3 separate regions of the Homo sapiens genome follow, and all the other regions are linked to region 1. The links come from fine-mapping of genetic effects on gene expression. A gene starts in region 1. Each other region holds a variant in brackets. All regions are shown on one strand. Distances are from middle to middle. Region 1 holds the start of MMP24OS (MMP24 opposite strand). Region 2 overlaps MMP24-AS1-EDEM2 (MMP24-AS1-EDEM2 readthrough). Region 3 overlaps TRPC4AP (transient receptor potential cation channel subfamily C member 4 associated protein).

The links. PIP is the estimated chance that this variant, and not a neighbour inherited with it, causes the effect.
Region 2: its variant is the best candidate, but not a certain one, in a credible set for the expression of MMP24OS in whole blood (TOPMed, PIP 0.89).
Region 3: its variant is the best candidate, but not a certain one, in a credible set for the expression of MMP24OS in whole blood (TOPMed, PIP 0.90).

Annotation. Positions count from the first base shown.
Region 1 is chr20:35,274,460-35,282,631 of GRCh38, reverse strand. MMP24OS (MMP24 opposite strand) reads left to right here and starts at 4,510. Exons shown (of 2, transcript NM_001355003.2): 1 at 4,510-4,623; 2 at 4,700-6,280. The coding sequence starts at 4,703. The coding sequence ends at 4,918. MMP24-AS1-EDEM2 (MMP24-AS1-EDEM2 readthrough) reads left to right here and starts at 4,510. Exons shown (of 15, transcript NM_001355008.2): 1 at 4,510-4,586. MMP24 (matrix metallopeptidase 24) reads right to left here. Exons shown (of 9, transcript NM_006690.4): 9 at 5,634-8,172. The coding sequence ends at 8,023. EIF6 (eukaryotic translation initiation factor 6) reads left to right here. Exons shown (of 7, transcript NM_002212.4): 4 at 1,803-1,978; 5 at 2,514-2,690; 6 at 2,885-3,066; 7 at 3,426-3,714. The coding sequence ends at 3,435. RefSeq lists silencers at 4,331-4,550, 4,641-4,860 and enhancers at 4,991-5,160, 5,281-5,380, 5,967-6,574, 6,575-7,182.
Region 2 is chr20:35,232,643-35,240,814 of GRCh38, reverse strand. It overlaps MMP24-AS1-EDEM2 (MMP24-AS1-EDEM2 readthrough), which reads left to right. Exons shown (of 15, transcript NM_001355008.2): 3 at 4,624-4,734. All of the region lies in intron 1 of MMP24 (matrix metallopeptidase 24), which reads right to left. Among named protein-coding and RNA genes, the nearest start is that of MMP24, 10 kb to the right of the region's middle. RefSeq lists an enhancer at 1,843-1,982. The variant CT/T (reference allele first, on the strand shown) is at 3,527.
Region 3 is chr20:35,002,559-35,010,730 of GRCh38, reverse strand. TRPC4AP (transient receptor potential cation channel subfamily C member 4 associated protein) reads left to right here. Exons shown (of 19, transcript NM_015638.3): 12 at 443-544; 13 at 1,984-2,067; 14 at 3,091-3,181; 15 at 4,156-4,296; 16 at 4,928-5,036; 17 at 6,161-6,273; 18 at 7,115-7,321; 19 at 7,448-8,172. The coding sequence ends at 7,585. Among named protein-coding and RNA genes, the nearest start is that of MIR499B, 16 kb to the right of the region's middle. The variant G/A (reference allele first, on the strand shown) is at 3,234.

The sequences.
Region 1 (8,172 bases):
ACTGTGTCTCAAAAAAAAACAAAAAACAAAAAACAACAACAACAAAAACTTAAGCCTAGTGACCTCAAAGTATTTTCCTATTCAGTTAAAATACTCTGATCTCTAACCATGCCCTTAGGACTTGAAGCAAGTTCTGACAACAAGGGAGATTTTAGCTTAGTCCTTGTGTATTTTATGATGGGAGTGACCTGGAATTCAGAAATTGATTGGCGTGTATTTGTAGATTGTTCATTCTTGTTGCTGTATGGTGTGTTTTGTGTAAGTATATCACAACGTATTCATCCATTCCATCGACAGTGCATTTGGGCAGTTTTCACTTTGGTCTGTTAGGAATAGTGCTGCTGGCCGGGCATGGTGGCTCACGCCTGTAATCCCAGCACTCTGGGAGGCCGAGGCGGGCGGATCACGAGGTCGGGAGATCGAGACCATCCTGGTTAACACGGTGAAACCCCGTGTCTACTAAAAATACAAAAAAATTAGCCAGGTGTGGTGGCGGGTGCCTGTAGTCCCAGCTACTTGGGAGGTTGAGGCAGGAGAATGGTGTGAACCGGGGAGGTAGAACTTGCAGTGAGCCGAGATTGTGCCACTGCACTCCAGCCTGGGCAACAGAACAAGACTCCGTCTCAAAAAAAAAAAAAAAAGTAATAGTGCTGCTATGTTTTTTTAGTGAACACATGTACATATTTCTACTGGGTATATGATACCTAAGAGTGGCATGGCAGAGTCACAGGTTATGTGACTATTTAGTAGTAGTTGCAGATGATGCCAGATAATTATCTAAAGTGATTGACCAACTTACACTCCTGTCTCAGTATGAGAGTTCAGTTGCTCCATATATCTTTGCCAACACTTGGAATTGATGACTTGTAAAAATTTTAGTCATTCTGGCTGGGGGCAGTGGCTCACACCTGTAATCGTAGCACTTTGGGAGGTCGAGGTGGGCGGATCACCTGAGGTTAGGAGTTCGAGACCAGCCTGGCCAACATAGTGAGACCCCATCTCTACAAAATCACAAAAAGTTAGCCAGGTGTGGTGGCACGCACTTGTAATTCCAGCTACTCAGGAGGCCGAAGCAGGAGAATCACCTGAACCCAGGATGCAGAAGTTGCAGTGAGCTGAGATCGCACCACTGCGCTCCAGCCTGGGTGACAGAGTGAGACTCTGCCTTAAAAAATAATAATCTAGCCATTCTGCTATGTGTGTAGTGTTAGCTCAGTTTTTTTTGTTTTTTTGTTTTTTTTTTTTGGAGACGGAGTTTCGCTCTGTCACCCAGGTTGGAGTGCAGTGGCGCGATCTCGGCTCACTGCAAGCTCCGCCTCCCGGGTTCACGCCATTCTCCTGCCTCAGCCTCCCGAGTAGCTGGGACTACAGGCGCCCGCCACCACGCCTGGCTAATTTTTTGTATTTTTAGTAGAGACGGGGTTTCACCGTGTTAGCCAGGATGATCTCGATCTCGATCTCCTGACCTTGTGATCTGCCCACCTCAGCCTCCCAAAGTGCTGGGATTACAGGCGTGAGCCAACACGCCCGGCAGCTCAGTTTTTAAGTAGCAAAATATACAGCTAATGCCAAGAGCTCAGCTTCCCTCCCAGTTGGTGATGGTGAAGTAGGCAGGATTTATTGGGATTCCTGGGTGGTCTCTGGCCTGCCCTGGGTGTTTTCCAGATCAGTGGGTTGGAGGGCTGGGCTCTGGGCCTAAAGCTTTCCTGGGAAAGCTGATTGGGCTGGGCTGAGTGGTATCCTCAGCCCCTAGGGCTCAGCAGGCATCTTGTGTATTCACCCTCTAATTTGGGTTTCTCCAGGGAACAGGCACGGTCTCCTGGTACCCAACAATACCACCGACCAGGAGCTGCAACACATTCGCAACAGCCTCCCAGACACAGTGCAGATTAGGCGGGTGGAGGAGCGGCTCTCAGCCTTGGGCAATGTCACCACCTGCAATGACTACGTGGCCTTGGTCCACCCAGACTTGGACAGGGTGAGGCAGCCCAACTTGACCCAAGAGTCACAGGGCCATCCTAGTCAGTGGTTAGCCACTGTTCTTTCCCAACAGGCAGCAATTAGGGGTCTCTCCTGTGGTTTTTCTATATGGGCTCTTGAGTTTCAGGTACTCATTGGAATAGTGATAACAGAGGCCTTATCAAGTGTCAGAAAGAAGCTGGGGAGGGTATGAATCCTTCATGATTGGGGAGATTGAACCATCCAGTCCTGCATCCTGGGCCAGGATAGGTGATTGACTGTTGAACTTTTGACTGTGGGTGAGAGGGGAAAGAAGTGATATTGAGACCAGCCTCCAGCTGTTCAGGGCATGCATGAATATTAGGGGCTTCACAGCTGCCCTTGACTCTGCTCTAAGCTGTACTTCCTCCTTTCTCTGGGTGAGGCTTTCATATGAGGTACAGAGGAGAAATGAGGGGCTCAGGGAGCCAAGGCCTGGATGCTTCTGGGCATGGAGAACCTTGGTTCTGGGGCTGTAAGTTCTGAGCCCTGAACACAATATCTTTGATTGACAGGAGACAGAAGAAATTCTGGCAGATGTGCTCAAGGTGGAAGTCTTCAGACAGACAGTGGCCGACCAGGTGCTAGTAGGAAGCTACTGTGTCTTCAGCAATCAGGGAGGGCTGGTGCATCCCAAGACTTCAATTGAAGACCAGGATGAGCTGTCCTCTCTTCTTCAAGTCCCCCTTGTGGTAAGCATTCCTGTCCTCTGAACCCCGTCTCCCGAGGCAGATCCTTTTGCCTAGTGTTTGGGAGTCTGGGTCATTACCTGCCACAGTTTGGGACTGGGGCTGCAGGTCAGGGAGGAGCAGGGTTTGGGGAGAGTCTTCATTGAGGAGGGAGAGAATTTGGTGCCGTGACTCACATTGAGCCCATCCCTTGGCAGGCGGGGACTGTGAACCGAGGCAGTGAGGTGATTGCTGCTGGGATGGTGGTGAATGACTGGTGTGCCTTCTGTGGCCTGGACACAACCAGCACAGAGCTGTCAGTGGTGGAGAGTGTCTTCAAGCTGAATGAAGCCCAGCCTAGCACCATTGCCACCAGCATGCGGGATTCCCTCATTGACAGGTACCTGGGGCCTCTCCTTTCTTCTGCTCAGGGTTGGGGGTTAACTTGCATTTTGAGAGTATGGGGAAAAGATGTCATCTAGAATGGGAGCCTACCAGTTTGTTCTGGTAGCTTCTCGAGTGTGAGAGCATATCTGTACACTGCTGAGCAGATAAGAGCCAGCATATTCAAAAAATATTTCTTGAGCATCTGCTAATCCTCATCTTTGTGGTTTTTCAGGGCTAGGATACTAGAGCAGTAGCTGCTTGAGCAGCTTGTCAGAGCTGGTCCCGGGATGAGGGCTGAGGCAGGCACCTCACTTGAGAGTGAGGTGGGCTCTGTGAAACAGCTACTGACCGTGCGCTTTCCTTTCTCTTCAGCCTCACCTGAGTCACCTTCCAAGTTGTTCCATGGGCTCCTGGCTCTGGACTGTGGCCAACCTTCTCCACATTCCGCCCAATCTGTACCGGATGCTGGCAGGGAGGTGGCAGAGAGCTCACTGGGACTGAGGGGCTGGGCACCCAACCCTTTTCCACCTGTGCTTATCGCCTGGATCTATCATTACTGCAAAAACCTGCTCTGTTGTGCTGGCTGGCAGGCCCTGTGGCTGCTGGCTGAGGGTTCTGCTGTCCTGTGCCACCCCATTAAAGTGCAGTTCCCTCCGGGCCATTCTGAATGTGATGTTTGGGGCCCTCAGCCTGTGTACAATCCCTGCACTCTCCAGTTGTTCCAGCATTCTGGGAAGATAGGGTGGGATGAACACAACACACACCCAACCCAGTTCACCACCTCCACACACGCCATTCCCTTCTCCTCTACCATCAGGATGTGAGGCTTCATCCTGGGGCAAGAAACACTCTCCACTACAGTTCTCCTTTTTTCTTTTTTCTTTTTGAGGCAGTGTCTCCCTCTGTCACCCAGGCTGGAGTGTTGTGACGCAAGGATGGCTCACTGTAGCCTTGACCTGTTGGGCTCAAGCGATCCTCTCGCCTCGTTTATTTTTTTGTAGAAACGAAGTCACTGTGTTGCCCAGGCTGGTTTATACTCCTGAACTCAAGCGACCCACCGCCTCGGCCTCCCAAAGTGTTGGGATTACAGGCGTGAGCCACGGCGCCCGGTCTAGTTCTCACAGTTTTCACCCGACTTCTGCGCCGGTCTTCTCTGGCCTTGAAAGGCAGAGAGTCCGTTCCGATTTTCCCCTGAGCTGGGCAAGTCCCCTGTGAGAGCTCTGGGGCATCTGGCTTCGGGGCATTCTTTGACTAAGGTGGATGGAGGTTGCAGGTCTTTTCCTGGGTGGGCGTGGGGCGGGGCAGCGGGTTCCCAGCGTCCTCCTGGCCTGGGCGTCTTGGAGGCTGTTGGGGTGCATTCCGTCCCCTTGCGCGGGGCGGGGCCTTGAGGCGCTGGGGCGGGATTGGCGGGGGACGGTCGCGGAGCCCCGCCCCGAAGCACAGGGTCGAGTCCCTTCTTTCCGCTCCAACGCACGGAGGGTGAGGTCGGTACGCGGTGGTGGCGTCACGGCGCCAGCTCCTCCCGACGCCGAGGTGGGTTCCGGGAGACCCGCGGGTCTGGCTGCGAGAGGTGAGGGCAGAGCCGGGGCGGGGCCCTAGCGGGGTGTCCCGGCGACCCAGACCTTAAAGGGCTTCTCTTCTTGCAGACCATGGGGGCTCAGCTAAGCGGCGGCCGCGGCGCCCCGGAGCCTGCGCAAACCCAGCCCCAGCCCCAGCCCCAGCCTGCGGCGCCGGAGGGCCCGGAACAGCCCCGGCATCCGCCCCAGCCCCAGCCCCAGCCCCAGCCCCAGCCCCAGCCCGAGCCCAGCCCGTGGGGGCCGCTGGACGACGTGCGCTTCCTCATCGCCTGCACTTCCTGGTACTGACGGCGTCCTCCGCAGGATGTCGCCCGTCTGTCCGCCGTCCCCTGTGGTTCTTGCCTGCCTTGTCTCCTCTCCCCACGTCCCTGCGTCTCTTACACCCCCTCCCACCCGAGGCTCCCCAGAGATAGCAGAGAATTCGAAGAGGTCGCCGGGGACTGGAAAGAAGTCCCGGCAGGGCCGCCTTCGCAGTCTACACCCCAGCCTGCTTCCCAGCCTACACCCAGACCCAGCTCAGACCTTCGTGACCACCCCATCCCTTTCTCCGGCTGGCTGGGTCGGGGGCATCCCTCTCTGTCGCTGGCTTCCAGAGGCAGGACAGGCCTCCTGGTAAGCCCGCAAAGTTGCTGACCTCCTGACTTCGTCTGCCTTTTATTAATATCTGTATTGCTGATAACCGTGCTCTTGACTATGTGTCCCAGGTCATGTCCCAGGTCATGGAGAAGCCCGTGCCACAGTGACCCTCCCCATACTCCTGGGGGGGCTGCTCTCCATCCTGGATCGTAAGGAGGCATCATCAGGCTGTGTTCCTGGAACCCCAATAACCCTGGGCCCCCAGGGCCAGCCTGTTGTAGAGGGAGGCTATCTGACCGCCGGTCTGGCAGAGGAGATGGGTGGGCAGCTCCCAGACACCCCAAAGGACCCGGTTCTCTTCCCAGAGCGTCCTAAGGTTACTCTTGGAACCTGATCTTTGTTCCCTCATCCCAGGGAAATGACACACTCTGTATTTCTGTTTTATTTAGAAATGATTTAAAAAACATTATACAAAGGCTGATCAGTTTAAAATGTGACTGACACTGAAATGCTGTGATGTCCCCCAGGCTGAGGGGAAGCTAGGCTCTGGGGCCCCCAGTGCTTTGCCCCTCTGTCTGCCCTGTCCTGGGGTGATGGACAAACAGATGACCACAGGCAGGAGAATCTGAGATTGGAAGCCTCTAGGCTGAGCCCTCTGGGCCTGGCCCCACATCCCTCACCTCTGCAGCCTGGGCTGCCTGCCTCCATCTCCTGTTCATTCTCAGCTGGCCTGCCAGGAGCCAATGGGGAGCCTGGCGGGAGGCGGGGGTGCCTAGAGCTTTCAAGAAGTGAGAGCACCAACCTGAGGAGTGGACAGGGACCAGGAAGTGGGGGAAGGGAGGCCAGGAAGAGGTGGATACAGGAGACACTTCTCATCTCATCTCAGACCCTAGAGGGGTCCACAGATGGGGACACAAGACCCAGCCAGCCCACTGGATGGCCCGGGCAAGTAACAACCTCTCTGTGCTTCATCTGAGGGCACGGTGAGAGTTACCGTCGGCCTCCCAGGGCCTAACACGAGTTTCATGTGAGTGGACAGGTGTGAGCTAATAAAGTGCTTTGCAAAGTATAAAACACTGTACAAACCTATGAATCACTAATATCTCCGCAGTTGTTCCCTGCCTGTCCCAGGGAGCCTGCCCTTGGCCAAAATGAGAAAAAACAAGGATGATGACAGGGGACACAGCGGACCCACATGGGCACCTCTGGGACAAGAGATTTTGCTTGAGACAGCTCCCAGGGCAGCAGGAGTCCCTGTCTGTGCTACAGGGTAAGCCGACCCCAATCCCAGAGACCACAGGGTCGGGGGCAAGGCCCATGCAGGCTCAGTGAGCAGGGGTGGCATCCGAGACCCGGCCAGCACGCTGGAGACTGCCTGACACCTTTTTGGCTTTGGCAGAGAGCCAGTGGGCATTGATGAACCCATTGGCCTTGTCTAGGGCTCCTCAGTGACAAGCAGGGCTGCCTCCGCCGTACTGTGGAGCAAGGCAGGCCAAGCCCTAGGAACTCCTGCTGGAGACAGTGAAGGGCGGGCCAGTGAAGGTCAAAAAGGGAGCCCCCTCAGCTTGGGGCTGCTACCGGTAGGGGTGTCCTTCTAAGAGCAGTGTGGGAAGATGGGCCCAGTGAGCGAGGTCAGCAAGGGCCAAGCTCTGGGAAAACACTGCTTCCAGCCGAGAGATTGAGTCGGCCTCAGAGTAGCTGGAGTCGGCCTCAGAGTAGTGGGGGCACTGAGCACTTCAGACGCCCTGGTCCCCTTCCGAAGGACTCCCAGGCTCTGCCAGTGTTGGCCCTGCAGCCATCTCTGCCTCACCTAACTGGTGAGGCTGAGCTCCAGGCTGCAAGTGACAGACTGGAGCAAAGCTGGGGACAGTGACAATAGAGGGGAGTGGAGGACGGTCACAAACTCGGATCTTCCTCCAGAAATGGGGTCAGCTTCTGCCCCAGCTCTGTAGCCATAGGAGCAGAGCTCAGCTACTGGGGTGTCTGGGCGCTAGAGTGGCCTTAGCAGCACCTTGGTCCTTGTCGCCTGGGGGAGGGCCGCTATGCTGGCCTCATCACCAAGACAGTCACCTCTAGTTCACCTAAAGCCTCAAGCAGCCTTTGCAAAATGGGACAGTAGTGACAGGACATTTAAATATTCACGATGTGACAGCTGGGTCCTTGTCAGACCCAGCTGGGCCACAGCCCTGCCTGCAGCATGTGACCCTAAATCCTGGGTCTCCGAAGAGACCCTGACAAGTGGAGCAGGTTTCCTGAGGGATCTGCCGTCTGCCAGCAGGGAAACCCAGGCTTGTTGCTCACTGTGTCAGAAGCAGGGGTCCTGTAGCCTTGGAGGACAGTGGGGTGGGGGTAGGGGGACATCTGACCAGCAGGTGTTGGCAAAAGGGGACCAGGACTGGTGGTATCTCCCGGATGGGGGATGAGAGCTAGTGCTGGCTTCCCACAGAGGGTGCTGGGTTCCAGCCAGGAGTGGAGCTGTGGTACCTCATGGACACCACAGGATGCCGTGACCACAGGGGCTCCTCCTGGCATGGTCCCTGCCTCCGGATGGAGCCTGGCCTATTCCCTTAAGTAGGGAGTAGTTTGCCCAGGACAGAAGGCTGGCAGCTGGGTGCCAGACACCCACCCTGGGGCACAGCCCCCATAATTCCCTGCCCCACGCTCAGCCTAGGCCAATGCACCCACCACTTCAGCTGTACGACCCCAGCCTAGGGCCCTGCTGGCCCTGGTGAGCACTGGCCAGAGCTGCCCCTCAGACCCTGGTGAGGAAGGGCCTGGCTGGCCAGACCAAGTGGATAGAGAGGGCTCTGGGCTGCTCACACCCATTCCTGGACTGGCCGCTTATAGTAGGTGACAGGCTGAGGGCCTGTCTTGTTCTTGAACTGGAAGATGGTGTAGACCAGCACCAGGATGCAGAGGGACAGGATGCAGGGGATGACCACGGCCACGGCGTTCACGGAGCCCGG
Region 2 (8,172 bases), 42 kb after region 1:
ACAAGAAATAATCACTGAGTTAATGAATGAACAGTTGATCTAGGAGGCACTGCCTGGATATCAAGGAAGGGACTTCATCTTGGGAAGATTTAGTAATACACTGAAAGCACCAAGCACAATTCCTGGTATCTATTAGAGGTTTCAAAAAACACTTGCTGAAATTCAATCTATTGTGATTTGACTTCCTTGCTTGATGAGGCAATAGGTTCCATTGTTCCATTTGAAAAAAAAGATAAAACCCACTGAAGGAAAAAAGTCCCATTCACTTTTAGACAGAATGACCTTGCTTTCATCTCTTTACACCTAGATCCATTAATCAATCATCAGCCACGTCAGAAGTCTAACCTTTACAGCTCAGTTAACCAACTCTTAAGATGTCTGTCACCCTTTAAGTGCAGAAAGAGGTGTAAACCCAGAGGAAAGTAAGAAAAATCTCAGAGTGCAAGCAGAGACCAAAATAGCTGGGCTGAGCCAAAGACGTAGAGATCATAGACAATATGGTGTGACTGGTCTGCCGGCCAGAAGGCAGGATTTGGGTTCCTGAGAAGCCAAAGCTGAGAAGTCCCGGAGTGGTGGCAGTGAAAGGAGAGAGCAGAGAATACCAAGGAGAACAAAATGTGCACAGAAGAGGGAAGAGAGCGGGAGACAGCAGAGGTGGTGGTGAGGTTAGAAGTGGCAATGGGGGTGGCAAGAGGCAGAGCTCTGGCAGTGCCTACAAGTATCCAGAGCCCTAAAGCTAAGAAATGGCAGAATTCAGGCATATTCCGTACGGTCAGAGTGTTGGACAGGCAGCCCTTCCCCCTCCCAGGACTTCCTATACCTCACACTCCTGGAGTGCAATGCCTTATCTCAGACAATAGTGAGCTCAATATGCCTGTGCTATGTCAGGGTATGGCACCATCAGCTACCCAGTTGTCCAAACCAGCAGCCTCATATGACCTGTGACTCTTCCCTCTCCTTCACTGCCTACATCCAGTTTCCTTTTTTGTTTGTTTGTTTGGTTGGTTTTTTTTTGAGACAGGGTCTCGCTCTCAGCCATGGCTCACTGCAGCCTTGAACTTCTGGGCTCAAGTGATCCTCCCACCTCAGCCTCCTGAGTAGCTGGGACTACAGGCGTTTGCCACCACGCCTGGCTAATTTTTCTTTTTTAATCTTTTGTGGAGACGAAGTCTCGCTGTGTTGCTAGGGCTGGTCTTGAACTCCTAGGCTCAAGTGATACATCTGCCTTGGCCTCATAAAGTGCTGGGATTACAGGCGTGAGCCACAGCACACTAGTCTTTTACCAAAGAACTATGGGTCCTACCTCCTAAACATCAAATGTTTATTTCTGTCCCTTCATTCAATAAATATTTATTGAGGACCTACTATGTACCAAGTACTGTGTGCTAGGGCTAAAAGAGCAAACAAAAACATTCTAGTCCCAGCCTGGCCAACATAGCAAGACACCTCTCTACAAAAAAAGAAAAAAATTGAAAAACAGCCAGGCGTGGTGGCTCATGCCTGTAATCTCAGCACTTTGAGAGGCCGAGGCAGACAGATCATGAGGTCAAGAGATCGAGACCATCCTGGCCAACACGGTGAAACCCCATCTCTACTAAAAATACAAAAATTAGCCGGGCGTGCGCCTGTAATCCTAGCTACTCGGGAGGCTGAGGCAGGAGAATCGCTTGACCCCAGGAGGTGGAGGTTGCAGTGAGCCAAGATCACGGCACTGCACCCCAGCCTGGCGACAGAGCAAGACTCTGTCTAAAAAAAAAAAAAAAAATTGAAAAAAGTAGCCAGGCGTGGTGACACACCCCTGTAGTCCTAGCTGCTCTGGAGACTGTGGCAGGAAGATCCTTGAGCCCAGGAGTTGGAGGCTGCAGTGGGCTGTGGGCGACAGAATGAGACCATGTCTAAAACAGAAACAAAAACAAAAACCAAAAACAGCATTCTAGTTACTTTCTAGTAGTTATGGTCTAGTGGAAGAACCATGTGGGAATAAGTGCTGTGAAGAATAGAGCCGGTTGGAGAGATGGAGAGTGGGACAGCTATTTATGGAGGGTGATCAGGGACAATCTCTTTGAGCAGGTGACATTTGAGCAAGAGATCTGAAGGAGGTGAGGGAGTGGACCCTGTGGCTACTAGGAAAGCGTGTTCCAGGATGAGGGAACAGTAAGTGTGAATGCCCTGAGGTGGCTCTAAGAGCTTTCCATCTCTGCAGTTAAGAGCCTTTATGATATGGTCCCTGACTCCCTCTGCAACCCCTTTTATCTTTCCCCACCTAGTGCTCTGTGTTCCAGTGAGTTCCAGTTCTCCCAGGCCCTTACACGTATTGTTCCTTCTATTCAGTTCACTCTCCCCTCCTCCCTCTTTGGGGAGCCTTGGCCTCTTACATCTATTTCAGAAGGTCCTTGTACATCCCTGTCAGTCCCCCATCTGTTTCCTTATCGCAATTCTTACCACACTGTATTGTAACCACATGTTGAAATATCTGTCGCTTCCTCCTGACTCTAAAATGCATATATGTCCTCCTCATCATTGTCACCCCAACAGCTAGCACAGGGCCTGCCATAACCATGACGAAATGGACATGTTGTTCAGTGTCACTTATAATTGACTATGTTACCCATTTAGAAAAGTCTTCTATTAGCACTGGCTCAGTAGCCAGCCTCTGCTCTCTGTGCCTCGGCTCTGCAGTTATCTCTGAGTCCCTCACCTTGTCCATCTCCTTGGTCAATCCTAACTTGAGCAAATGGTCCATCAGCAGCTTCAACCCCCAACACTAAGATATTATTGTATCACTGTATGCAGGCATGAATGGTGGCCTAAGATCATTCTTCCTCATCCATTGCTATATTGGCTTAATGCTTACAACTGGGTTTTTTCCCTCAGTTTCTCTCTCTAGCATTCAAGTTCTAAGCTGAGACTGCTGTGACCCTAATCTATTTTTCAGGGTCTCAGATTCCCTGCCTAGTTCTTAGACAGCCTCCTCCACAGAGTTAGACTGTATTCTCAATACACTTGGGAGCTGAATGGGGTCCTATCTAAAAAGACAGCTCACTTGGGACCAAGATGCCACCACATACCAAATATTACCTAACTTTTCTCTTTCCAGCAGAGTGCCCTTGGGCAAATGACCTAACTCCTCTAAGCATCACATTCCTCATCTGTTAAACAGATGTTTAAAGAAGGGCTGTTAGGAGGACTCAGTGAGATGATGCACTGTGGTAGGTAAAATAATGACCCTTCAAAGACAGCCACATCCTAATCCCCAAAACCTGGGAATATGTTGCCTTATGTGGTAAAAGAGACTTTATAGAAATGATTAAGTTAAGGATCTTCAGATGGGGGAGATTAGCCCGGATTATCCAGGTGGGTCTAATGAAATCACAAGCATCCTTATAAGAGGAAGGCAGGGGGTTTGAGTCAGAGAAGGTGTTGGGAGACATAGGTTATAGCAGTGCTGCTGCTGCTAGAAGGGGCCACAAGCCAAGGGATGCGGGCATTCTCTAGACACTGGAAAAGGCAAGGAAGAGATCCTCTC[CT/T]AGAAACTCCAGCAGGAATGCAGCCCTGCCAATAACTTGATTTCAGTCCAGCAAGACCCATTTTGGACTTCTGACCTCCAGAAATGTAAGAAAACAAGTCTGTGTTGCTTTTAGAAATAAGTTTGTGGTAATTTGTTACAGCAGCAAGAAGCATTTAGCAGATTCTGGCACATAGTAAGTGTTCGTACAATGTTATTGTCTATTCCTGCTCCCATACTCCTTGGAAAGAACCGCTGAAAGGCAGAGACGCTTGGCTCCATTCCCAGCTCCCCCACCAACTTGCTCTTAGTGATTTTTTTTTTTTTTTTTTTTTTGAGATGGTGTCTCGCTCTGTCGCACAGGCTGGAGTGCAGTGGTGCGATCTTGGCTCACTGCAACCTCTGCCTCCTGGGTTCAAGTGATTCTCCTGCCTCAGCCTCCCGAGTAGTTGGAATTACAGGTGCACGCCACCATGCCCGGCTAATTTTTGTATTTTTAGTAGAGACAGGGTTTCACCATGTTAGTCAGGCTGGTCTCGAACTCCTGATCTTAGGTGGTCCACTCACCTCAGCCTCCCAAAGTGCTGGGATTACAGGTGTGAGCCACCTCACCCAGCCCTTGGTGATTTTTAATAAGTCATTTCTCCTCTTTGACCACCACGTTTGGTTATTGCTGCCAGACCAAATCACTGGGTCTTTCTGGTGACTCCTCAGGGATGGGTCCTATCACTGTGTCAGTTCCCTCCACTTCTTGTCCCACCAAAACCCTGCTTCCTCCTCTACCCATATAACTGAGGTCCCAGCCTTGCTGCTGAGCCCACCTGAGTTATATAACTAATTCGTAAAATTTCATACTGAAGGCATAATCATTCAGGTATCTAGAAAATGCACTGGTCACCAATACTCAGAGATCATCTAATTTAACATACTTGTTTTGCAGAAGAGAGAAAGAAAACTCCGGGAGGGGAAATGACTTATTCAAAATCACAGAGCAAGTTGGTAAGGAAGCCAGACATGGAGGCAAGCATCTCTGCCTCTCAGAGGGTTTTCTGTCATGCTACACCCTCTGCACTAGCTCTAGTTTGCCTCCAAATGCTGTTTTTTTTCTTCACTTACAGCCAATCTAAAAAGGGCCCTCAGGATCGCCCACAATGCCCAGCTTAGCTTCTTGACAAACACCTTAATGGCGCAGCATTGCCTGTTGGCTGCCATCGGCTCTTGAGTGGGTGGTAAGTGCACTAGCGGGAATTCCCTGGCGCTCTGCAGAATGTCCTTGGCCCACTCCCAGGAGGCCACCACAAGCCAGATGATCACCATACCCGGGGAGGTGGCACATTTGGGGTTTTGGGTCAGCACTGGGATGTCCAAGTTTTGCAGTTCTGGGGAGGCCTCTGCCCACAGTCAGGAGTGTGGCCATGGTCTCATTCACTCTCTGGAAAAGGAGAGGCCTTAGTCTTCCTCACCCTGTCCAAGGCCCTCCCGCAGATCTGCTAATTTTCTGTCCCCTGAGGCTCGACTTCTTGGTGAGTTAAGAAAAGGGAAAAGTGAAGACAAAGACCAGTGGCCAGGCCTCAGGGTTTTTAAAATTTAAATTAAAAAAAATTTTTTTTTGAGACATAGTCTTGCTCTTGTCACCCAGGCTGGAGTGCAATGGCGTGATTTTGGCTCACTGCAACCTCCGCCTCTCGGGTTCAAGTGATTCTCCTGCCTCAGCCTCCTAAGTAGCTGGGATTACAGGTGCCCACCACCACGCTCAGCTAATTCTTTGTATTTTTTAGTAAAGACAGGGTTTCACCCTATTGGCCAGGCTGATCTCGAACTTCTGACCTCAGGTGATCCACCCACCTCAGCCTCCCAAAGTGCTGGGATTACAAGTGTGAGCCACTGCACCTGGCCTAATTTTTTTAAGACAGGGTTTCACTCTATGGCCCAGGCTGCAGTGCAGTGGTACAATCTCTGCTCTCTGTAGCCTCAACTTCTTGGGCTCAAGCAATCCTCCTGCCTCAGTCTCCCAAGTAGCTGTGACTGTAGGTGTATGCCACCATACACAGCTAATCTTTGTATTTTTTGTAGAGATAGGGTTTCGCCATGTTGCCCAGGCTGGTCTCAAACTCCTGGGCTCAAGTGATCCTCCCAGCTTGGCCTCCCAAAGTGCTAGGGTTACAGATGTGAGCCCCACAGCCAGACCAAGTCTCAGTTTCTTAACTGCAACAGGGAGATGGTTGAACTAAATAACCTGTAAGTCATGTTAAAAAGTTCCATTATTTTAGCCTAAGTGGATTGACTGTGAAGCCGATCTTCTGGTTCCTCATTGCCAGTCTTAAAGTCCAGATTCTTTAGCATGACACAACAACCCTTACAATGTGATGCCAATGCACCTTTCCAGCCCTGTTTTCTTTTGTAGAGATGGGGTTCTGCTCTGTCGCTCAGGCTGGAGTGCAGTGGCACAATCATAGCTCACTATGACCTCAAACTCTTGGTCTCAAGCAATCCTCCAGCCTCAGCCTCCTGAGAAGCTGGGATTACAGGCATGAGCCACCATGCCTGGTTCTGCCAGCCTCATGTTCTGTCCTGTACCTTCTACCCTTTATTGCTCACCTCAAGTACCCCAACCTCTAGCTATACTGACCTAATTGTGTTGCCTGAGCATATCCTGCAGAGTCCTGCCTCTGTGCCTTTATTTCATTCCCTCTCCCTAGAACTCCTTTCCCATATGTACTCTGGCCTCCCCATGGTGCGCTACTTCAAAATGCAACTTGAATGCCACTTCATCAGGGAGGGCTATCTGTCTGGGGTTAAATGGACTTTCTATGTGCTCCCAATGGCATTATATGTATCCTCATTTATAGCATATTTTGTATTACATTATAAATAATGGTTTACATGCCTGTAGTCCCCTTTGAACTCATCCTCATGGAAGTTACAGCCGGTGGGAGAGATAGACATGGAAATACTAAACATTTCATTACAGTGGTGATAAGTGGAATGAAAGAGAAGAACCAGGAGCTACAAAAGTGTGTGGCAGGAGATATAGGCTGTGATATCAGGGATGGCCTCCCTGAGTACATGACATCTCAGCTGACATCTGTGAATGAACAGAAGAGGCTAGGTGAAGGCTGAGAATGAGACTCCAGGAAAGAGTACCTTACTGAATTCCTGAATGGGAAGGAGCCTGTATATTAGAAAAAGAGAGGGAAGGGCAGGGTGACTGGAGTCTAGTGACCAATGGGGAGAATGGGTGGTATAAAAGGAAGTCAGAGAGATGGGAAGGACTCAGTCATGCAGGGCCTCATCGGCTTCATTAAGCATGTTTTTGTTTTTGTTTTAGACAGGGTTTTGCGCTGTGGCCCAGGCTTGAGTGCAGTGGTGTGATCTCTGTCCACTGTAGCCTCAGCTTCCTGGGCTCAAGCAATCCTCCTGCCTCAGCCTCCCAAGTAGCTGTGACTACAGGCACATGCCACCACACCCAGCTACTCTTTGTATTTTTTTGTAGAGATGGGGTTTTGCCATGTTGCACAGGCTGGTCTCAAACTCCCGGACTCAAGTGATCCTTGTGGGTGCTGCGTCCAAGGGAGTTTATAATATTGTTCTTTCCATTTTCATATGCATTTGAAAGTTTTCCATAATAAAACTAAAAGGAAGAAGTGATAGTAGTACAGTAATAATAGTATAATCTTTGTCCTAAGAGTCATTTTAAGCCAGGTGAGGGTGGGAGTAAGGTGATCAGATTTTGGTTTGTTTTTAATTTTTTTTATTATTCAATATTTCAGTCATTCAGAAAGGCATAAAATAACAATATATATTGGAAAATCACCAGCCAGCTTTGTCAAACATTAGTTTTTGCCATATAGGCTTCAGATATAACTGACTCCTGAGTGGACTGATTGATTGATTCATTGATTGATTTTTGATACAGAGTCTTGCTTTGGCTGGAGTACAGTAGTTCAATCCTGGCTCACTGTAACCTCCGCCTCCCAGGTTCAAGTGATTCTTGTGCCTCAGCCACCCAAGTAGCTGGAACTACAGGCATGTACCACCATGCATAGCTAATTTTTTTGTATTTTTAATAGAGATAGGGTTTCACCATGTTGGCCAGGCTGGTCTCGAACTCCTGGCCTCAAATGATCTTTATACATACATATGTATAAAGAGAGAAAGGAGTAAAGAACAACTCCTGACTTTCTGGCCAAGTACTTTTGGTGCCCTTTATGCCTCGTAAGTGTTTGTGGCATAGAATTGAGTCTTTAAATTACTGCTAACAGGCAAGGCCAGGGCTCATGCCTGTAAGCCCTTTGGGAGGCCAAGGTGGGCGGGTCACTTGAGCCCTAAAATGAGTACTCGCCCCTAAGTTGTGCTAAGAAAGCTTAAAAGCATTCAGGGCAGGAGCCAGCAGCCAGAACAACTCAGGAACAAACTCCAGTCCCTCCACTTCCTCAACATGGCTCTGAGCAGGTCGCTCCTCTGCTCAGAAACCTTTAATGACTCCCCTCAGCCTTTGGACAAAAGCCAAATGCACAATCTGCTCTCAGTCTCCCTCTCCAGCCTCTTCTCCTTATACACTCTTACTGGAAACAGCAAGTAACTTGATGATTCAGGCACATCAAATTATCCACTGTTTCCTAAACATGCCATGCATTTTTGTGGAGCCATGGTTCATATTTTTTATT
Region 3 (8,172 bases), 270 kb after region 1:
GGCCTGGATGGCAAGTCGGGGGAAGTGTCACAGTTAACCAGGCCTCTGTGTGATGTGTGACCGTGGTGCTTGGTGGGACTGCTGCAGCAGGGCCAGGCTTGAGTGTGATTGGACCTGTTGAGGTGTTGGTGCCTTTGAGAAAACAAGTGGAAATGTAGGCAAAGAGAAAGGCCCAGAGCTGCTGAGGGAAGGGGCCTTGTCGATGAATGTGGCAGGCAGGGGTCGGGGATGGGGGTGGGGCCAGGGAGAGATTCCACTGCCTGAGAGCCCAGAGTTCCCTCCTGCAGGTGCTGGCTGGAGTGAGAGGTGCTAGAGGAAAGTGCCTGGTGGCTTCTCAGATTCTGTCCACAGGAAGTGGGCAGGAGACTCCCTACACTAGCCTGGTGCTGACCCAGCAGCCCCAGTTCCTGTCCTTTACCTCCTCCAACCCATTTTGTTTCAGGAACAAGTACTTGTTACTCAACAACCAGGAGCTGAATGAACTCAGTGCCATCTCTCTCAAGGCCAACATCCCTGAGGTGGAAGCTGTCCTCAACACCGACAGGTGAGTGCAGGGGTGCAGCTTTTCCCTCAGCCCATCCCGGCTGCCCACGTTCCCCGGGGGCTCACCGGTGAGCACATCCAGGTATGCACGCGTGTCCTCTCTCACATGCAGCTACAGTGTCCTGAGGGCTCCTGTGTGCCAGGCATTGTATTCATGTCACCTGCATTTTCTCATTGGAGCCTCACAGCAGCCCTAGGAGGGGAGCCCCATCAGTACCTGCACTTGACAGATGAGGTGAGCCTCAGAGAGGTCACCTGCCAGAAGTCATGTGTGCTCCGCACTGCCCCACCGCCTTGTCTCGTGCATTCAGCCCCTTTGCTTATGTGCTCCTTTCTTGCCTGGTGGCATCTGCAGCCAAGCAGGACAGACAGAAGCCTCTTACCTGCTGCCAAGTGTTAGGTTGCATTACCTGGGTTAGGTTTGCCTCACCTGGAGCCAGGCAGTGGGGGGCTAGTCTCACAGGCGTCAGAATACAGTGGACTTTATCCAACAAGAGCCATGATTTCCCAACCTTTTTTGTTTGTTTGTTTTGTTTTGTTTTTTAGACACAAGGTCTTGCTCTTTCTCTCAGGCTGCAGAGCAGTGGTGTTATAGCTCACTGCAGCCACAAACTTCTGAGCTCAAGTGATTCTCCTGCCTCAGCCGCCCGAGTAGCTGGGACTACAGGTGTGCGCCACCATTCCCAGCTAGTGTTTTTACTTTTTTTTTGTAGAGATGGGGTCTCACTATGTTGCCCAGGCTGGTCTCGAACTCCTGGCCTCAAGTGAGCCTCCCAAAGTCCAGGGATTACAGGTGTGAACCACCTCTCCTGGCCTCCCAATCTTTTTTTTCTAAGGTAGCAGAACTCTTCATTCAAATAAAATTGTACCCAGTCCTGCCCTGATGTCTGCAGTGGATCACAGCAGAGCTGCTCTGTTTGAAGGGCCCAGACCCCTGCGTGCCTGGCCGTCTTCCTTCCCCCATGACGGGGCCAGAGTCATTTCCTCATCTCCTGCCTTTGCTTCATAGACTGGGAAGCTGAGGCTTGGAGTTGTGGACACTTGCCCAAGGCCAGCTGGAAGTGAACCTCAGGCACGGAGTACGCTGGGCCTCACCCTATTGGCAGAGTCTTTCCCCATCTGGCAGACTGGCATGACCTGTTTCAACACACTTTTGGTATAAACAGCTCTCCTCTGGCAGTTCTAAGCCATGTCTGATTCTGGATATGTTTCTGGCCTGGGAAGGAAAGCTGGCCTGAGATGTGGTGGGAATGCACTTGGCAGTTTAATTCTGTGGCTGCAGGGGTCTCCGGGGCTCTGGACCCAGTTGGAGCAGGAAGGCATCCTGCAGACTTGGAAATGTCCCCATGGTTTTTCACCGCCTAAGCCAGCAGAATGACCCATCCCCAGGGCCCCTGTCAGCCTCTCAGATCTGTCACCAATATCTCTCTTCTATTTCAGGAGTTTGGTGTGTGATGGGAAGAGGGGCTTATTAACTCGTCTGCTGCAGGTCATGAAGAAGGAGCCAGCAGAGTCGTCTTTCAGGTGAGTCTGGGGAAAAGTACCTGCCGATTCTGCGGGGCTGCAGAGCCAGGTGTTTCTCAGGAGGTTAGGAATACCTCCTTTAGTCACCAGCGTCCATGCCTCCTGAAGCACAATTACTGTTGGGGAGAGGTGGTTTGACTGCCATCTTGTGTAGTTTTGACTCGACAGGTATGTGAGAGCTTCTTCTGCAGCCCACAGTGACCGAGCATTCACCAAGCACCTGTTCTGTGCTGGTGCCTTATGGGTGGGAGAGAACTAGGATACGGGCCCTGCCATGAATTCCCTAGAGCTGTGCTGTTTCAATGCAGTGTGGGAAGGAATGGAGCCAGGGTTGGCCCAGGAGCTATAGCAGCAAAGGAAAGCCTCTTCCGCTGCTAGGGCTGGGGGCTGGGTGAATACAGGGAGACCTTCTCTGAGGTCCTTAGATACATCTAAGATGAGTCTTGAAGTCAGTGGACAGGTAGAGTTCCATCAGGGCCGGGCGTGAGCTGTCAGGAGGCTTCATGCCCACATGGGCCTTTGTCACTTCAGTGCCTTGTCCAAACTCCCTGTCGTGGATACCCGCTGTGCCCTCTGGGTCCCTCGGTCAGCATCAACCACTACTTCCCTAGGCCAGCCCATCGTCTGTGAGCCCAGTGGCCTGTCTGCATGTGTTCGTCCGCTTCCCACACACATTCCTGGCCCCTCAATTGCACGTCCTCCCATTCTTGTGAAAGGGCAAGGCCTAGAGTATGTTTCACGGGGGCTCGCAGGAGCCAGCCCTTCGATCCCAGATGTTACCCTTTCTGTGACACAGCCCCTTCCAGACAGACCCAGATAGAAGACTTCTCCACTGAGCTGGCTCTCTGTGAGGATGGGGGCACTGCTGTGTCCCCAGGCCCAGGATGAAGCCTGATGCTTGGTAGATGTTCAGTAAATGTTGAGTACATGAAAAGGCAACAAACATCTCCCAACCCCTTGGAGAACTGAACATGGGCCGGAAGAGGGCAGCCTTAGCCACCTGAGCCAGTATTTGGGTCGCAGGTTTTGGCAAGCTCGGGCTGTGGAGAGTTTCCTCCGAGGGACCACCTCCTATGCAGACCAGATGTTCCTGCTGAAGCGAGGCCTCTTGGAGGTATGATCTGGAGCAGCCAGTGTCTTGGGTTCCGTCTCCCCCCAGCCCACGC[G/A]TTGCTGTGTCCTGTCCTGAGCCCCAAACAGTTCATCAGGAGCAGAGCAGATCTCGTGACTTCCAAATGCCTGTGCAGGCTGCCTTAGATTTTGCCCTGGGTTTCCAACTGTGGGTTCCCCATGGGTGCTTACGGGGTGACAGGTTTAGAGGGTGGCCAGGCCATGCAGGAGGGTGACAGTTTGGTTACCCAGCAAGGCATTTTGACCCTGAAGATATTTTGTACTAAAAGTTAATTTTCCTTTATTGAATAATGGTCTTCAGAAAAAGTAAAACTTAGAGCAGAATGGCCAAAGTTATAATTGGTCTTTCAGATTTTTTCATATGGACAAGAAACTGACCCACGAATTATAAAATCCATGTGGAAAAGAATTGATCCAAATCAATGTAACTTCAAGAAAATGTAGAAAACTTTATAAAGGAGTAAATTGGCTTTATTCTCTTGATGAAAACTCAGTATTTTGGTGTAAACTCTATTTAAACAATTTCGTTCATAAACACAAAGACAAACCATGGGGTCAAAATGTGTCCTTTGCTTTTAAATTCTGTCCTTCATTTACTTGAATGACCTCAGTGCTTAGGCAGTGGCCTGTGTTTTAGACCTGGTGATGACAGCTCCCCTCACCTAGGAGCTGAGCACCCCGGCCATCTTGGTGACCACAGAGCAGGTCACAGGCTTCAGCTGTACGCCCTGGGCAGGGGAGAGATTGTGCTGCATTCCCAGTCTGCTCCACCTCCTGGTGAGGTCTGTCAGGCCTGGTCCTGTCCTTGGAGCCACCAGCATCCTCAGACAAGAATCTAGACAGTGTTGCCAGTTCCATCCCCAGGATGCTTGCTCAAAGCCAATGCATGGTCTGAGCTCCATGCCAGGCCCTGGTGGGGGCAGCCACGTTGACACCTTCACCCTGTCCCTCCTCACCCAGCACATCCTTTACTGCATTGTGGACAGCGAGTGTAAGTCAAGGGATGTGCTCCAGAGTTACTTTGACCTCCTGGGGGAGCTGATGAAGTTCAACGTTGATGCATTCAAGAGATTCAATAAATATATCAACACCGATGCAAAGGTAAAGTTAACCCAGGGCTCTGTGGAGTGTGCTGGGTTGTCCAGAAGTTCACCTGGAGTCCTGGTCTGCCAGGCTTTAGGCACAGGTTTTACGTTAGAGACGACGGGGGAGTCTGGGCAGTCTTTGGCAAACATTCATTGGAACCTGCTCTGTCTGGCTTTGTGCTAGACCCTGGGAATGCAGGGATGAAAACCGGGGCTGCTTGTGGGTAGGGAGTGAGGGTGGGAATGGGTGGCTTGTGCGCCTGCCGTGACGCAGCATGGTGGGTGCCACGGTGGGAGCCGCTGTAGGGAGGGACTGGGCCTGGTGTGTTAGGCTCACCGAGTGTGTGTGACAGAAACCCAGCTCAGGCTAGCTGAAGTAAAATTAAAAGTAAAAATTAAAGGAATCCAGCACCCTTGAGCGTAAAACCACTGGAGAGAGTGTCGGATCTGTGCTGAATTCCGGGGAGTGCCTCTTAGTACCTGGGTGGTGAGGGGAGGTCCCTCAGCTTATCTGAGCCTCTGTCTTCCTATCTGAAGCAGTGGGGCTGGTAGAGGTCGCTGATGCCCCTTGTAGTGACTATCCCCCCGGGCCATGGCCATACCTGGCCAGCAGCCCACTGCCTGCTGTGAGCTTGGTTTCTGTATAGTTCCAGGTATTCCTGAAGCAGATCAACAGCTCCCTGGTGGACTCCAACATGCTGGTGCGCTGTGTCACTCTGTCCCTGGACCGATTTGAAAACCAGGTGGATATGAAAGGTACATGAAAGGCAGGCTGTCAAGGCAAGTCATGCAGGGTAAGAATGCTGGCATCAGACACCCTGTCTCCAGCAGGGAGACAAGAATGACTGAGGGAGCTGCACCAGATGCCCACGTGGCCGGCCTCAAGGTGGCGGCTTCCAGGGCAATTGGCTTTGCTGCCTTGTTCAACACTTTAATAAGGTGAAAATCCATTGTTGCTAGCAAGATGCAAAGAAAACCAGAAAAAGACCTTCCTCTTCTGGGCTGGTATTGCCTGGCACGATGAGTTGGCCCCCTCGTCCTCAGTGTGCTGTGCGTGGCATCGCAGGTGCCCTGTGGTGCAGCAGGCATCTGAACCCTCCTGGACTTGCTAACGCACTTCCATGTGTATGCGCACGCGTTTCCTTTTTTTCCTAGGAGAGGGCTTGTGGCATCCAGCAGATTCTCCTGAGGGTTTGTGACCCCCCCACACCCCCAAAAAGTCAGGCACTTGTTCCTTGTCACGGTCACTGTCATTGATAGCAAGAAGTATCCCGGTTGTTGGTAATTTAGCCGTTTGCTTCCTTTTTCTGCCCCAGAGGGTCTGTTTCAGGGGAACAGCCACACAGATTTTGGTACCTTCGGTTATTGCCCTGCCTCCCAGTTGTGCGGGAAGCAGTTGCTCCGACACTAGTGGACGGAGCAGAACCTGTGCCTTGTGGTCTCAGCACTGGGCCGGACTCACCTGAGAGCTGGTGTGGAAAACCAGTTGCGCTAGGACCTCTGCAGAAGGAGTGGAACTTTTGCGTTGTTTTTCTTAATGCAGCGTCATGGATCCATCTTCCTGTGGAGGGAACTCTTCTGTGTGTGATATGGAGGGCACGGGTCTGGAGCCAGTCTGGGGAGGGCTGAGGGAGAGCTGCCCTGAGCTTGGTTCTGGAGGATGAGGTGGGGTGCTCCTGGGCACTCTGAGAACATGGCTTTGCCTGGTAGCAGGACAGCTGGAGGTCCTTCTTTCTGCCACAGTCAGCTTTCGTTGAAGCTGTTTTGATGATGAGCTCCTAGCTTCAGAGTCAGGACCCAAGCGGGGCTCCACGAAAGGCCTGGGCGACCCAGCCACTGGGCCTAAGCCTGACCTGCTGCACCCCTGCCTCCCTCCACAGTTGCCGAGGTACTGTCTGAATGCCGCCTGCTCGCCTACATATCCCAGGTGCCCACGCAGATGTCCTTCCTCTTCCGCCTCATCAACATCATCCACGTGCAGACGCTGACCCAGGTGAGAGGCCCCGGCAGACACACAGCAGGGAAGGTCGATTGGAAACCACTTCCTTTGTCCTGGTGCCCAGCAGGTTTCTGTCCCCCACTCCAGAAGTGCGTCTCTGGAGACCCAGCTCTTCTGAGGACTGTGCTCAGGAGGAATCAGTGTCCCATTGTACAGACAGGGCCTAAGGAAGGAGGGCTCGCAAGTGCCCTCAGGTCACAGGCTGACTTGCAGGCCAGTGCTCTCCCCGCCTCCCCCATGTCCACGTCCCTCACACCTTCTGCCCTGCTGGGCTTTGGAATCGGACCTGAGGCTGCCCAACTCCCTCACTGAATAGTCATGCAGCCTTCCCTTCTCTGAGCCTCCTGCCCCTCTTTTCTAGAGTGAGGGTGATCTTAGCACCTCTCAGAGGTGGTCTTTGGTTCCGTTCTGAGGTGAAGCACCAGGTGGGAGTGCATGGTGAGTGGGGCAGAACTCTTTCCCCACCGAGGCGCGCAGGCTAGTGCTGAATGGCACTTCTGAAGCGGGATAACCGCCCCAACACACGCACCCAGCCCTGCCTGGGACGGACCTTCCGGAAGGAGTGATGCTTGAGCCCAGGTCTGGACAGGGACAGGTGTTGTTGCCTCAGGTGGGGTGGGAGGTGGGCGTGGGGAAGAGGAAGGTGCTCAGTCAGGAAACTGGGGCTGCTGGGGGCCCCCTTCCCCCAGTCCTATCTCACCTCTGTGCAGGGAGAGCTCTGTGGGTGGCCCGAGGCCTGGGGCCACTCTCCTCCCTGCCTGATGGCTACCCAGGTTCACCAGGGGCCACTGGGGCTCCCACCAGCCCCTGACCCTGTGGGCCTGTGGCCTTGCAGGAGAACGTCAGCTGCCTCAACACCAGCCTGGTGATCCTGATGCTGGCCCGACGGAAAGAGCGGCTGCCCCTGTACCTGCGGCTGCTGCAGCGGATGGAGCACAGCAAGAAGTACCCCGGCTTCCTGCTCAACAACTTCCACAACCTGCTGCGCTTCTGGCAGCAGCACTACCTGCACAAGGACAAGGACAGCACCTGCCTAGAGAACGTGAGTGCCCCACCCTCAAGGGGGTGATGGGTGGGCCGCGGACCCAGGGCCTCTCAGAGGGGTGTCCCGGTGCTGGGCTTGACCTGGGTCCTCCAGGCGCCCCCCAGCCCCTCCCTCTTTGCCCAGAGCTCCTGCATCAGCTTCTCATACTGGAAGGAGACAGTGTCCATCCTGTTGAACCCGGACCGGCAGTCACCCTCTGCTCTCGTTAGCTACATTGAGGAGCCCTACATGGACATAGACAGGGACTTCACTGAGGAGTGACCTTGGGCCAGGCCTCGGGAGGCTGCTGGGCCAGTGTGGGTGAGCGTGGGTACGATGCCACACGCCCTGCCCTGTTCCCGTTCCTCCCTGCTGCTCTCTGCCTGCCCCAGGTCTTTGGGTACAGGCTTGGTGGGAGGGAAGTCCTAGAAGCCCTTGGTCCCCCTGGGTCTGAGGGCCCTAGGTCATGGAGAGCCTCAGTCCCCATAATGAGGACAGGGTACCATGCCCACCTTTCCTTCAGAACCCTGGGGCCCAGGGCCACCCAGAGGTAAGAGGACATTTAGCATTAGCTCTGTGTGAGCTCCTGCCGGTTTCTTGGCTGTCAGTCAGTCCCAGAGTGGGGAGGAAGATATGGGTGACCCCCACCCCCCATCTGTGAGCCAAGCCTCCCTTGTCCCTGGCCTTTGGACCCAGGCAAAGGCTTCTGAGCCCTGGGCAGGGGTGGTGGGTACCAGAGAATGCTGCCTTCCCCCAAGCCTGCCCCTCTGCCTCATTTTCCTGTAGCTCCTCTGGTTCTGTTTGCTCATTGGCCGCTGTGTTCATCCAAGGGGGTTCTCCCAGAAGTGAGGGGCCTTTCCCTCCATCCC